Homo sapiens: one gene and its partner. The protein of the gene in region 1 purifies or fractionates together with the protein of each later gene. This does not show direct contact. Each region holds a gene or a part of one and is shown on either strand. Other genes may lie near its edges. The genes, in order: LYRM4 and KLHL22.

Evidence for each region.
Region 2: the proteins of LYRM4 (region 1) and KLHL22 purify together in Homo sapiens (affinity purification with mass spectrometry; 2 studies listed by BioGRID and IntAct, with this or other methods). This does not show direct contact.

What each region holds. Positions count from the first base shown.
Region 1 is NC_000006.12:5,250,764-5,258,052, forward strand, and holds part of LYRM4 (LYR motif-containing protein 4), read right to left. Parts: intron 1-7,289.
Region 2 is NC_000022.11:20,443,579-20,450,867, forward strand, and holds part of KLHL22 (kelch-like protein 22), read right to left. Parts: intron 3,099-7,289; coding exon 2,865-3,098; intron 1-2,864. UniProt on the Homo sapiens protein: Substrate-specific adapter of a BCR (BTB-CUL3-RBX1) E3 ubiquitin ligase complex required for chromosome alignment and localization of PLK1 at kinetochores.

The DNA of each region.
Region 1 (7,289 bases):
AGCAGTCTTTTTCTCTTTTAATTTTCCCTTCCTTTACTATGTTCTTACATATGGTATAATAAAAGAGTGAAAGCAATTTTTACAGACATGTATGATGTGTTCAACATTTCATAGAGAGCAAAACTCTTATTTGGCTGCTTAAAATAGAATACAATGTTATTTAAAAAATATTTCTGTAATACGATATATGACAGCCAAAACATCATTATGCAAGGTGTCTCCTCAGCCCCAGTACATTCTGCAAATCTCCACTGTTCGGGCACTATTTCAATTTGCATGCTTCCTCTGTAAGTTTCTTGAGCCGTCCTTATATGTACATTGCATATGCGCAACCATACTACAATCTTGTGACAGCAGGGCCATCTTGTGTTTGATTCCACCTATTACTAGGTTCTAGTGTGGTAATATATACATACACACACACACACTGTGAGTTTTCAAGAAATATTAGGAAGAAATGGATTTGTTGATTTGTCTCCAGAAGAATATTTGGCATGAAGGCTTTCACTGTAGCTGCCCTGTTTTACAAAGTGAAAGGTGCTTGTTAATACTATTCATATTAGGGTGGTATTTGAATTAGTCTGTTCTCACATTGACTGGCTAATTTATGAAGAAAAGAGGTTTAATTGGCTCACAGTTCTGCAGGCTGTACAGGAATTGTGATGCTGGCATCTGCTCAGCTTTTGGGGAGGCCTCAGGAAGCTTACAATCATGGCAGAAGGTGAAGGGGGAGCAGACACATCACAGGCCAGAGCAGGAGCAAGCAAGCGAGGAAGGAGATGCCACATACTTTAAAACAACCGGATCTCATGAGAACTCACTCATTATTGTGAGGACAGTACCAAGGGGAATGGTGCTAAACTATTCATGAGAAACCTGCCCCCATGATCCAATTACTTCCCACCAGGCCCCACCTCCAACACGGGGGATTGCATTTCAGCATGAGATCTGGGTGGAGACAACATCCAAACTGTATCATTGCATGCTAGCCTTCTTGATCAATCAGTGACACATAGGGTGGAAGAGGCAGTCACTGTTAAAAGATCCGCAACAAGGAAAACATGTGAAAGAAATCCTTTGATGAGTGAGAGGGCTGCCTGGTTCCCACTCCAGGAGCTCATGGTTCTAATTCCTCAGCTTGCCAATAAATCTGGATTGCGACTGGTAATATATTAAAGAGTTCCAATGGCTCAAAAAGAAAACAGATTCCTAAACACGAATCATTATTTGGTTCCTTCATTAAGACAGCAATCACAGATATCAGTGTTTCATTCAGTTGTGTAGTACATAGTAAGCGAGACCTGACGTTGATCAGCACTTAGGTTGATCAGGACTTAGGAATTTTACCACTCATGAAACTAGGGAGCCTGTTTAACCATTTCACCTATAAGGAGGAACTGTGAAAATAAACTTCTCCAGGTTGATGTTTCTACAGATTTTGCAGGCTTATTCACAGGATGCATGGGTGCAGGAATTTTCTTCTGAAAAGAATGGGGTTGTGGAAGCGGCAGCCCACGGGGAGCGAGGCGGCCTTCTAATCCCATTCTGCCCTTGACCAACTGTGAGACCAATCAAGTTGCTTCTCCTCTCTATGCCTCACTCTGCCTTGAAACCTATTTCGTTACTTACTGGGGATTTTACCTAGCATTTAACATCATGACATTTAGCTCAGTCCAACACTTCAGCCACAATTACCCACGTCTGGTTCTGACACACGCCTTGCATTTTACTTTTCACATGCCTTACTGTCTTTGCCTGGAATGCTCTTCCATCGCATGTCCACCTCTGTGGCTGACACAGACTGTTGCCTAATCAATAGTTCTTCCCACCGTTTTCTCTCTGCTGTCTTTTCACTAGAGATGCTAGAATAGCTGTATCCTAATTTTCCAGCCTGTTGTTTACCTAGTGATATAAACGTAATGAAGTTTTGGTCAATGAGCAAAAGCAGAGTCCTCCTGGAAAGCTTTACCCTTTCCTGGCTGTGACTGCCCTTCTTCTTCCTGACTAAATAAGGATGTATTTGGAGCTTCAAAAGCTGTTTGCAACCATCAGGCATAAGCATGAGAGGAACACCGAGACTCACACATACCTTGACATTTTCTAGCTGCTAAATAAGCTCTGGCAGCTACATACCTCTAGACCTTTCCTATGTGAGAAGAATAAGCCCCCAATTAAGCCCTGTGTAAGGGCTTCCTATGACTTCTGGTCAAAAGCATTCCTAATTTTAAGGTGGCACTTAGGAGACCAGCTCCTTTCTATGGCCTTTCCTTTGTACTTCATTGATAAACTTCTTTAGGAGCTTGTAATGTTTTACCCTTAATAGGAGGCTCATTTTGATCTGAAGCTCTTTGCACAATGCTTAGTGTATAACACATTAATAAAAACTCAAATATCTGATGAAGAATTAGGGAGTTCTGACACTACACTTGGTATGCATTTGGGCATCACTTTAGCCTTTTCTCAAGTTTTACAATAACATATTTCTTAAGCTATAAGAGGGATACATTGAATATAATTTTCTCTTGCATTTCAACAATGAATATTTATTATGTTGGTGCAAAAGGAATGCAGTTTTTGCATTGCTGGAATTTGCTGTTTGATACTGGAATAAATTCTTAAATAAATGTGGTTATGTTATACATCATTTTAATGGGCAATTCTCAGTTTTTTTTTTTGCTAATGACTTGCTGTTTATGTTTATTTTACACTATGGAAATAATGTTAGACAAAAAGTAAATTTCAGCAATTTTCTTATTTGAGCTCAAAATTGGTCAAAAAGCTGCAGCGACAACTTGCGACAACTCATTTGGCCTAGGAACTGCTAACAAAGGTACAGTGCTGTGGTGGTTCAAGAAGTTTTGCAAAGGAGACGAGAGCCTTGAAGATGAGGAGCCTAGTCGCCGGCCATTGGAAGTTGTCACCGACCAATTGAGAGCAATCATGGAAACTGATCCTCTTACAATACTCGAGAAGTTGCCAAAGAACTCAATGTTGACCATTCGATGGTCGTTCGATCTGAAGCAAAATGCAAATGTGAAAAACCTCAATAAGTGGGTGCCTCATGCTGAGCAAAAAAAAAAAAAAACCATCGTTTTGAAGTGTTGTCTTCTCTTATTCCATGCAACAATGAACCATTTCTCGATCAGATTGTGATGTGTGATGAAAAGTGGATTTTATGTGACAACTGGTGATGACCAGCTCAGTGGCTGGACCAAGAAGCTCCAAAGCACTTCCCAAAGCCAAACTTGCATCAAAAAAAGGTCATGCTCACTGTTTGGTTGTCTGCTCCACTAGAGCTTCTTGAATCCCGGCAAAACTGTTTCATCTGAGAAGTATGCTCAGCAAATCCATGAGATGCACTGAAAACGGCAATGCCTGCAGCCAGCACTGGTCAACAGAAACGGCCCAACTGTCTCCATAATGACCCTTGACTGCATGTCACAAAACCAACGCTTCACAAGTTGAACGAATTGGCCTCATCCGCCATATTCATCTGACTTCTCGCTAACCAACTTCCACTTCTTGAAGCATCTCGACAACTTTTTGTAGGGAAAACGCTTCCTTGACTAGCAGGATGAAGAAAATGCTTTCCAAGAGTTTGTAGAATCCCGAAGCACGGATTTTTACGCCACAGGAATAAACTTATTTCTTGTTGGCAAAAACATGTTGATTGTAATAGTTCCTATTTTGATTAATAAAGATATATTTGATCCTAGTTATAATAATTTAAAATTCATGGCCCAAAACCGCAATTACTTTTGCACCAACTTGCTACCTAGGTACTATGCTAAGCACTAGGAATAGAGATAAGACAGAATTTCTGGTAACTGTGTATGTGTGATATGTGCCCTAACAAAGGTAAGAACAGGTGCTTCCTCAACATCTGCTTATCTCCCGCTTAACCCAGAAACTGGCTGTCAGGCTTGGCACAAATAAACTCAACTTTCCACCCTCTCATACTCCAACTTGCCCTCTTCTCCTTCATTCCACTCATGTAAAATGAAATACCGTTCATTCTGTCCAAGACCAACCCCACCAGCTGTGCTCTCAGGTACCACTTTTCACCTCTCGTGGGGTCCTGCTCTATCGGTTATCTACTCTCATGTTTTATTAACCAAAATTCCGGTGGGAGGTGGAGGGGGTATCTCTACTCACGGCAGCAATTTACGCACTTCTGATTCATGTCTCAACCCCCACAATCTGGGTTCTGCCATAACCACTTGACTAACAATGCTGCTCTGGTAATGGTACCAGAGGCTCTACATTGCCCTCTTTATGAACTGGATATTGCTTAGACAAGCCACCCTGCTGACCACAGCTACCTTCCCCAAACATATGACTATCTTGACTTCTGCAACACTACTCTTTACTTGATCTCCTCCCATTTCTTCAACCCTACAGTAGTTAGCCAAGGGACCATGGCGGGGGTCTCTGAGACCTTTCAGGGGATCCACCAGGAAAACTATTTTCATAGTTATCAGGAAGACATCTGCATTCTCTCATGAGTATACAGGGGAAATTACTAGACACTAAGTGATATGTGATATAGCAACAAATTGTAGATAGCAACAAATATAAGCACCCAGTTGTCTTCTATTAAGCCAAACATGAAAGAGACTTGCACTAGTGTCAAACTATCAATCTGCTGATTTAGGGGGAGGAAAAATGGTTATTCTTCATAAAAGTGTTATTTAACATAATGGATTTAGTCACTTTAAAATAGGTGTTTTTAAAAGCTTTTTTTTTCTAATATGATAAATGCGTCCCACATAAATGAAAGCTTTTTGGGGTCCTCAGTAATATTTAAGAACGTAAAAGGCCTAAGACCAGTTAAGTTGAAGAACCACATTCTTAAACTTTGTCTTCTTGGCTCTTCTTCAGCCAACTACTTCAATTTTGATGTTCCCTAGAATAGCATCCGTAGCCACGAATTTTCTCACCTTAAACTAGGATTTCTCAATCTTGGCATGACCAAACTTTTGGGCCAGCTAATTCTTTGTTAATGGGGGTTGTCCCCTGTGCATCCCTGGCCTCAGATGCCTAGCACCCCCTTTCCAAGTTGTGGCAACCAAAAACGTCTTCAGATATTGTCAAATAAAATCACCCCAGGATGAGAACTACTAACCTAAATAGTATTCCTAGATAATTCATCTAATATCTAGGTTTTAATTTGACTTATGATGATAATTCCACTTATCAAGTACCTATTCTGCACCAGGGACTATCCTAAGTACTTGATGTGTATTAACTCACCACAGTGGTGCCGACTACAGCCCCCATTAACAAAGAATTAGCTGGCCCAAAAGGTTGGTCATGCCAAGATTGAGAAATCCTAGTTTAAGGTGAGAAAATTAGTGGCTACGGATGCTATTCTAGGGAACATCAGAATTGAAGGAGTTGGCTGAAGAAGAGCCAAGAAGACAAAATTTAAGAATGTGGTTCTTGGCCAGGCGCGGTGGCTCATGCCTGTAATCCCAGCACTTTGGGAGGCCGAGGTGGGCGGATCACCTTAGGTCAGGAGTTCAAGATCAGCCTGGCCAATATGGTGAAACCCCGCCTCTACTAAAAATACAGAAATTAGCCAGGCGTAGTGGCAGGCACCTGTAATCCCAGCTACTCGGGAGGCTGAGGCAGAAGAATTGCTTGAACCTGGGAGGTGGAGGTTGCAGTGAGCCAAGATCGCACCATTGCCCTCCAGCCTGGGCAACAAGGGCAAGATTTCAACTGGAAAAAAAAAAAAAAAAAAAAAAAAAAAAAAAAAAAAAAAGAATGTGGTTCTTAAACTTATTGGTCTCAGGACCCTTTTACACTGTGTGAGATGGATCAATTATGACTCTCATTTTATAAAGAAACTGCAGAACAGAGAGTGATGTGACTTGCGTGGGGTCACACAGAGTTGGTGGTGCTGACTACTGCAGTGCTCATCACTCCTCTGAGCTTCAGAGCCCTGTGATTAACTACCTCTGCTGGGCATCCCAGGGGAAATTTACACCCAAGATACCCTAAATATGAACTAAAAAACCCTCTCTCCACAAGACCAGCTAGTTCTGTATTACCTGAGTCAGTTAATGGTGCAAGTTTAAATTCACCCTCTCTGTGCTTTAGCTTAACCAGAAACCTGGATGCCATTCTAGACTCTGCTTGGATTCTCTTCTTCCTTAGTCCTCAATCCAATCATTCCAGTTCCAACAATTTTCCCTTCTAATGATTTATCAAATACAACATTCTTCTCTATCTTCCACTATTCCTGTCCTTACTAGCGTCCTAATCTCTACTCTGCACTGTTGTAATCAACTCCCATTTGATGTCCTTGGCCCCTCAAAATCATCTTCTACACTGCTGCCAGAGTGATCTATCAGAAAATGCAAATCTGGTCATGTCAGGTTAGTGGCTGCCTGTGAGCTAAGGGTAAAGTCCAGGGTCCTCAGCACGGCCCCCAGGCCCTCAAATCAGTGGCCCTCTCCAACCTCAGTGCCTTCCTGTCACCGCCCCCCCAACCCCATCATACTTACCTCCCTGGCAGTGCTGTGCTGTTTGCCTGCCTGACCACACCAAGCTGCTTCATGCCTTTGATCCAACATCACCCCTTGGGAGGCCTTCTAGATTCCACACCTTGTACATCCTTCTGTCACAGCACTTAACCCAGTCTGTGACAACTATCTCTGTACCTGTGTCCCACATAGGCCTGTAAAGCCATTGATAACAGGTGCCTAGCTTAGTTCAAAAATCTCATCTTTCTCTCTCCAGGGCTTGGTATAGCAGGGGTCCCCAACCCATCAGTACTGGTCCGTGGCCTGTTAGGAACCGGGCCACACAGCAGTTGAGCGGTGGGTGAGTGCGCATTATGGCCTGAGCTCCATCTCCTGTCAGATCAGCGGCGGCATTAGATTCTCATAGGTGCACCTATTGTGAACTGTGCATGTGAGTGATCTAGGTTGCATGCTCCTTATGAGAATCTAATGCCTGATGATCTGAGGTGGAAGAGTTTCATCCCGAAACCATCCCCTCCCTTGACCCGGTCCATGGAAAAACTGTCTTCCATGAAATTGGTTCCTGGTGCCAAGAAGGTTGGGGATAGCTGTGATATAGCACTGGGCAAAGCATGCTTCAGAGATGTTTTGTAGAAGCACTGAGGTAAAAGAATGACACACAGCAATGAGACCTGTTTGGCTGGTGGGAGGGATGGGAGTGGAAGCTGTGGGATGAAGAGAGTTGGGAAAACTTTTGTTCAGAGAAGGTGACAATTGAGCTCAATCTTGAAGGAAGAGGGGGCACTCTAGACAGGAGTG
Region 2 (7,289 bases), on another chromosome or scaffold:
AAATACAAAAATCAGCTGGGCATGGTGGCACATGCCTGTAACCCCAGCTACTCGGGAGGCTGAGGCAGGAGAATCACTTGAACCCAGGAGGCAAAGGGTGCAGTGAGCCAAGAGCACCACTGCACTCCAGCCTGGCGACAGAGCGAGACTCTGTCTCAAACAAACAAACAAAAAAAGTGGAAGGGGAGGCCGGGGGTGGTGGCTCACGCCTGTAATCCTAGCACTTTGGGAGGCTGAGGTGCGTGGATCACCTGAGGTCAGGAGTTTGAGACCAGCCTGGCCGACATGGCAAAACCCCGTCTCTACTAAAAATAGAAAAATTAGCTAGGTGTGGTGGCGAACACCTGTAGTCCTCCTAGCTACTCCGGAGGCTGAAGCAGGAGAATCGCTTAAACCCAGGAGGCAGAGGTTGCAGTGAGCTGAGACTGCACCAGTGCCCCCCAGCCTGGGTGACAAAGCAAGACTCCATCTCATAAAAAAAAAAAAAAGAAAAAAAGGAAGGGTAAAGCCAGACAAGAGAGCTGAGAAGTGAGGAGGACTCAACCTGCCATTGCTGGCTTTGAAGACGAAGTGTCCCCAAGCCAGGAAAAGTGGGGACCTCTAGAAGCCAAGAAGGCCCTCAACTGACAGCTAGCAAGGAAATGGGACTGCAACTGCCAGGGACTGAATTCTTCTAACCAGAGTGAGCAGGGAGGCAGATCCCCACTAGGGTCTCCACAAAGGAAAGATGCCCTGACCGCACCCTGGTTTTAGCCTGGCAAGGCCCATGTCAGAGGACTTATGAATGCAGAATAAATTTATCTTAAGTTGCTATGTTTGTGGTGATAGGTTACTGAAGCAATAGAAAACTAATGTGCTGGCCCAGAGGATCTCACAAGCAGAGGACCTGTTAAAAGCCAGATCGCCAAGACCCACCCTCAGGGCTTCCGAATCAGTGGGTCTGAGGTGCCTCGTAACACAGCGTTCCCAGGTGATGCAGACTCTGTTAGTCTGAGAATCACACTTTGAGAACTGTTGCATGAACCTAAGGAAATAATCCAAAATACCTGAAAAGCTCAACAAAGCAACTATTACTTGTCATGTTATTTGGAATAGTTAAAACTTAGACACAAGAGGGGATGATGAAGATTGAGTGTTAATCTGGAAAATGCCCAGGACAAAAGTCACTGAGAGAAGCAGAATGGGATATGGGATGCTCTTTTTTGTTTGTTTGTTTGTTTGTTTGAGACAAGGTCTCGCTCTGTTGCCCAGGCTGGAGTGCAGTGGCACCATCACGGTTCACTGCAGCCTCAACCTCCTGGGCTCAGTTGATTCTCCCTCAGCCTCCCAAGTAGCTGGGACCACAGGTGCAAGCCACCATGCCTGGCTAATTTTTTTTTGTATTTTTAGTAGAGATGGAGTTTCACCATGTTGCCCAGGCTGGTATCAGTTCCTGGACTCAAGCCATCCACCTGCCTTGGCTTCCCAAAATGCAGGGATTACGGGTGTGAGCCACTGTGCCCAGCTCAGAATGGGATGCTCTTTGACTACAATCAGGCAGAAAACATACACGGTCAATGCTGAAAATGGTCATACTGAAAAACAGTACTGCAGGGGCCTGATTATGAATGCTTTTCCTCACCCTTCTCTATTTTTTTTTTTTTTTTGAGATGGAGTCTTGCTCTGTTGCCCAGGCTGGAGTGCAGTCGTGTGATCTCAGCTCACTGCAACCTCTGCCTCCCGGGTTCCAGCGATTCTCCTGCCTCAGTCTTCCCAAGTAACTGGGATTACAGGCGCCCATCACCGCACCTGGCTAATTTTTGTATTTTTAGTAGAGATGGAGTTTCACCATCTTGGCCAAGCTGGTCTTGAACTCCTGACCTCGTGATCCACCTGCCTCAACCTCCCAAAGTGCTGGGATTACAGGCGTGAGCCACCGCGCCCGGCCACCCATCTCTATTTTTTAAAGTTCCGGCAATGTGGTTATATTAACTTTATAATAAAAGTTTTGTTCTGTTGTTTTGTTTTATTTTGTTTTGAATAGAGACAGGGTCTCATTCTGTCACCTAGGCTGGGGAACAGCGGTGTGATCATAGCTCAGTGAAGCCTCCAACTCTGGGCTGAAACAATCCTCCCACTTCAGCCTCCTGAGTAGCTGGGACTACAGGTATGTGCTGCCAGCCTGGATCTAAAAGTTTTGTTGTTGTTTTTTTTTGTTTTTTTTGAGACAAGGCCTGGCTCTGTCGCCCAGGCTGGAGTGCAGTGGCGTGATCTCAGCTTACTGAAACCTCTGCCTCCTGGGCTCAAGCCATCCCCCAACCTCAGCCTCCCAAGTAGCTGAGAGTACAGGCATGCAACCACACCTGGCTAATTTTTGTATTTTTGTAGAGATGGGGTTTTGCCATGATGCCCAGGCTGGTCTCAAGCTCCTGAGCTCAAGTGATCCTCTCGCCTTGGCTTCCCAAACTGCTTGGATTACAGGCATGTGCCACCACATCCGGCCTAAAAGTTTTTAAGAGTAATAAGCAAAGGTAGATGTGTATGTGTGTGATACTGTCATGGTGACATTTGTCCAAACCTATAGAATGTGCCAAGAGTGAACACTGTGGACTCTGGTTGATGGTGATGCATCAATGCAGTTTCAACAACTGTGACACATCCACCCCTCTGGAGCGAGAGGTCTGCAGTGGGGAGGCTATATGTGTATGGGGGGAAAAGGGGGTGTATGGAAACTGTACCTTCCACTTAATTTTGCTGTGAACCTAAAACTGCTCTAAAAAATAGTCTATTTTTAAAAGGCACATGATTCAATTACATTTTCCATCAATAACAACTGAGAGGCTTGGGAATGATGACGGGTGTGGACTGCCCCGGGCCCCACTCACCTGGTGCACGTCCCTCCTGTATCCGGCATCGTTGTTGCTGCCCCCGATCACATACAGCTTGTTGAGGAGGGTTGCCATGCCGTGCCAGGCGCGCCGCACAGGCCCATCAGCCAGTGTGTGCCAAGTGTTGCTGCCTGGATCGTAGCAGTGTGTCTCTTTCAGGTAATCCTCCCCTCTGCGGCCGCAGGTGATATACATCTTCCCCTCCAGCGTCGCGCCTGCGTGGGCATACACCTGTGTGGAGCCACCAGGAGAAATGGCGTGAGAGGGCAGTGAGGAAGGGTGGCTGGGTACTCTGTCAAGGCCAATCACCACCCCACACCTGCCTGACAACGCTGTGAGGCTTCACCACTTCCCACTCACATACAGACAAGAATCCTCCCTCGATTCTCATGGGACATACTGTCCTAGTCATTGACCTCTAACCTCTTCCCAATAGCGGATACATCTATAGACTCAGAAATGAAATGTAGCCTTTGTCTTTCCTTTGCTCCTAAAGTTAACATCTGCATGGGGGAACTCCAAGAAAATAAAAGCATTTTTTCCAAGCCAGTCTGGAAGAAGCCACAGAACCCTGGGGACCGCTGACCCACCCTCAGTGGCCTCCACCCCTCCCCCACTCCCACTGGACATGCAATCCTCCGGGCCTGCTGACCCTGCTTTTAAAATGTTTGTAAATAATATCTGACACTAAACTCATGATGTGGGGAGAAAAATACACATGGTTCTTGATTCTGGTCCTGAACCTTCTGTGGGCTTTTTACCCTCCCTCTGTTGGGCTATCTCCATAGGGCCCAGCCTGCCCCCATCATGGGCACCTCTTACCCTGGCCCTACCACTTCCGGAACCCACCCACTCACACCCAGCAGGCCAACAGAAGGCCCCAAGGCAAGGCCCTGGGTGTTTTGAGGGTAGAGGAGCCCCTCAGGGTGTGGAGGCTCCAGAGCTATGTTACTGGGCAAGTCACTAACACTGAGGCCATGCGGGTGGCAAAAACACAAGAGTCTAGAGAGGTGGACGGAGCAGTGGGGAGGAAGAACACACACCAAGGGTTTGGTTTGGGTCTTCTCCTATCACCAGTAGGGGTCTGGGGAGGTTTTTCTTTTTTTTTTTTTTTTTGAGACGGAGTCTCGCTCTGTCACCAGGCCGGAGTGCAGTGGCACGATCTCGGCTCACTGCAATCTCCGCCTCCCGGGTTCGAATGATTCTCCTGCCTCAGCTTCCCGAGTAGCTGGGATTATAGGCGCCCGCCACCATACCCAGCTAACTTTTGTATTTTTAATAGAGACAGGGTTTCACCATGTTGGCCAGGATGGTCTCGATCTCCTGACCTCGTGACCCACCTGCCTCGGCCTTCCAAAGTGCTAGGATTATAGGCATGAGCCACCACGCCCAGCCGAGGTTTTTCTTTTTAATTAAACTTTTCATTTTGAGATAAGTGTAGTCACGTGTAGTTGGAAGTAAAAATACAGAGGTCTCACGTGCCTTCTTTCCCCCATGGTAGGAGCCTGTGTCACTATATCACAGGGTCACCAGGATGCTGACGTGGACACAGCCACAGAACTGTCCTATCACCACCAGGATCCCGAGGGGCTGCCCTTTAGGGTGACATCCACTCACCTCCCTTACCCTAATCCCTTCCTTAAGCCCTGGAAACCACCAATCTCTTCTCTATTTCTACAGTTTTGTAACTTCAAGAGTGTTGTCTGAATTAAATCAGTATACAACCTTTTGACATTGGCTTTCTACCCCAACCCAGGTTCTACCAGGTTGTTGCATGTACAGGTTGAGTACCTCCAAAATCTGAGACTTTTTGAGCACAAACACGGCACTCAAAGGAAATGCATTTCAGACTTTTGGATAAGAAATGCTGAACCAGTAACTATAATGCAAAGATTCCAAAATCTGAAAAAATCTGAAATCCAAAACACTTCTGGTCCCCAGCATTTCAGATAAAGGGTACTCAACATGTACCAATAGTTGGTTCCTTTTCTATTGCTCAGTAGTATTCCATGGGTATCTACCACAGCTTGTTTAACCATTCACTGTTGAAAACACCTGATTTGTTTCCAGTTTCTGGCTATTACCAATAAAGCTACTATTAACATTCATGTACAGATAAGTTATTTTTTATTTTTTTGAGACAGGGTCTTGGTCTATTGCCCATGCTGGAATATAGTGGCACAATCTTGGCTCACTGCAACCTCTGCCTCCCGGGTTCAAGCAATTCTTGTGCCTCAGCCTCCGGAGTAGCTGGGATTACAGGCACGCATCACCATGCCTGGCTAACGTATACAGAGTAGTTTTCATTTCTCTGGGATAAATACCCAGGATGGTAACTGCCAGATCTGTTTTCCAGAGTGGCTGTACCATTTCACATTCCTATCAGCAATCCATGAGCATAGTTTCCCTGCACAGTCACCAGTATTTCGTATTTTCACTACTTTTTATTTTAGTCATCCTGAGGTAGTTCTCTCACTGTGGCTTTAATTTGCATTTCCCTGATAGCTAATAATGTTACATATCTCCTTATATGCTTATTTGCCATCTATACATCCTCTTCAGTGAAATGTTTCTTCAACTCTTTTGCCTTCTGTTTTTTGTTTTGTTTTGTTTTGTTTTGTTTGTTTTTTTTTGAGACAGAGTCTTGCCGTGTCGCCCAGGCTGGAGTGCAGTGGCACAATCTCAGCTCACTGCACCCTCTGCCTCCTGGGTTCACACCATTCTCCTGCCTCAGCCTCCCAAGTAGCTGGGACTATAGACGTCCGCCACCACATCCAGCTAATTTTTTGTATTTTTAGTAGAGATGGGGTTTCACCGTGTTAGCCAGGATGGTCTCAATCTCCTGACCTCGTGATCCACCCACCTTGGCCTCCCAAAGTGCTGGGATTACAGGTGTGAGCCACCGTGCCCGGCTTCTTTTGCCCTCTTTTTAATGGGGTTATTTGCAGTATTTTGCCAAGGTTTTTTGTTTTTGAGATGGAGTCTCACTCTGTCGCCCAGGCTGGAGTGCAAAGGCACGGTCTCGGCTCACTGCAACCTCTGCCTCCCAGGTTCAAGCAATTCTCCTGCCTCAGCCTCCCAAGTAGCTGGGATTACAGGCGTGTGCCACCGCGCCCAACTAATTTTTGTAGTTTTAGTAGAGATGGGGTTTCACCATGTTGGCCAGGCTGGTCTCTGGTCTCGAACTCCTGACCTCGTGATCCGCTCACTTCAGCCTTTCAAAGTGCTGGGATTACAGGTGTGAGCCACCACACCTGGCCGTTTATTGAGTTTTAAGAGTTGTTTATATATGTATTTATTTAATACTAGTCCTTTGTCAGATAGGTGGTTTGCAAATATTTTTTAATTTTGATGAAGTCCAGCTTATCAATTTTTCTTTTTATGGCTCATGCTTTTGGGGTCAAGTCTAAGAATTCCTTGCCTAGCCCTAGCTAGATCCTCAAGATTTTCTTCTGGTCATCACGTCGCGTGGCCGCAGGGAGCAGACCCGGACAGCTCCAGAGCCTCCGGGCCGGGGCGGCGGCGGCGACGCTTCGGCTCCTCCTGAGCCACCTGCTGGACCCGCACCCCACTCCATCCCCACAGGCTGGGGACAGGCCCTGGCGCGGCTGTGTGGGATCAGAAGCAGAGTTGCAGAATCCAAGGACCTATTTTTGTTCTTTCTCCGCACTGCTTTATGGGAGGCATTATGGCCCCCAAAGACATAATGACAAATACTCATGCTAAATCAATCCTCAGTTCAATGAACTCCGTTGGGAAGAGCAATACCTTCTGTGATGTGACATTGAGTAGAGCAGAAAGACTTTCCTGCCCATGAGATTGTGCTGGCTGCCTGTAGTGATTACTTCTGTGCCATGTTCACTAGTGACCTTTATAGAAGGGGAAACCCTATGTTGACATCCAAGGTTTGACTGCCTCTACCATGGAAATTTTATTGGACTTTGTGTACACGGAAACAGTACATGTGACATGGAGAATGTACAGGAACTGCTTCCTGCAGCCTGTCTGCTTCAGTTGAAAGGTGTGAAACAAGCCTGCTGTGAGTTCTTAGAAAGTCAGTTGGACCCTTCTAATTGCCTGGGTATTAGGGATTTTGCTGAAACCCACAATTGTGTTGACCTGACACAAGCAGCTGAGGTTTTTAGCCAGAAGAATTTTCCTGAAGTGGTACAGCATGAAGAGTTCATTCTTCTGAGGCAAGGAGAGGTGGAAAAGCTAATCAAGTGCGATGAAATTCAGGTGGATCCTGAAGAACCAGTCTTTGAGGCTGTCATCAGTTGGGTGAAGCATGCCAAGAAAGAGCAGAAAGACTCCTTGCCCAGCCTGCTACAGTATATGCAGATGCCCCTGCTAACCCTCAGGTATATCACAGATGTAATAGATGCTGAGCCTTTCATCCACTATGGTTTACAATGCAGGGAT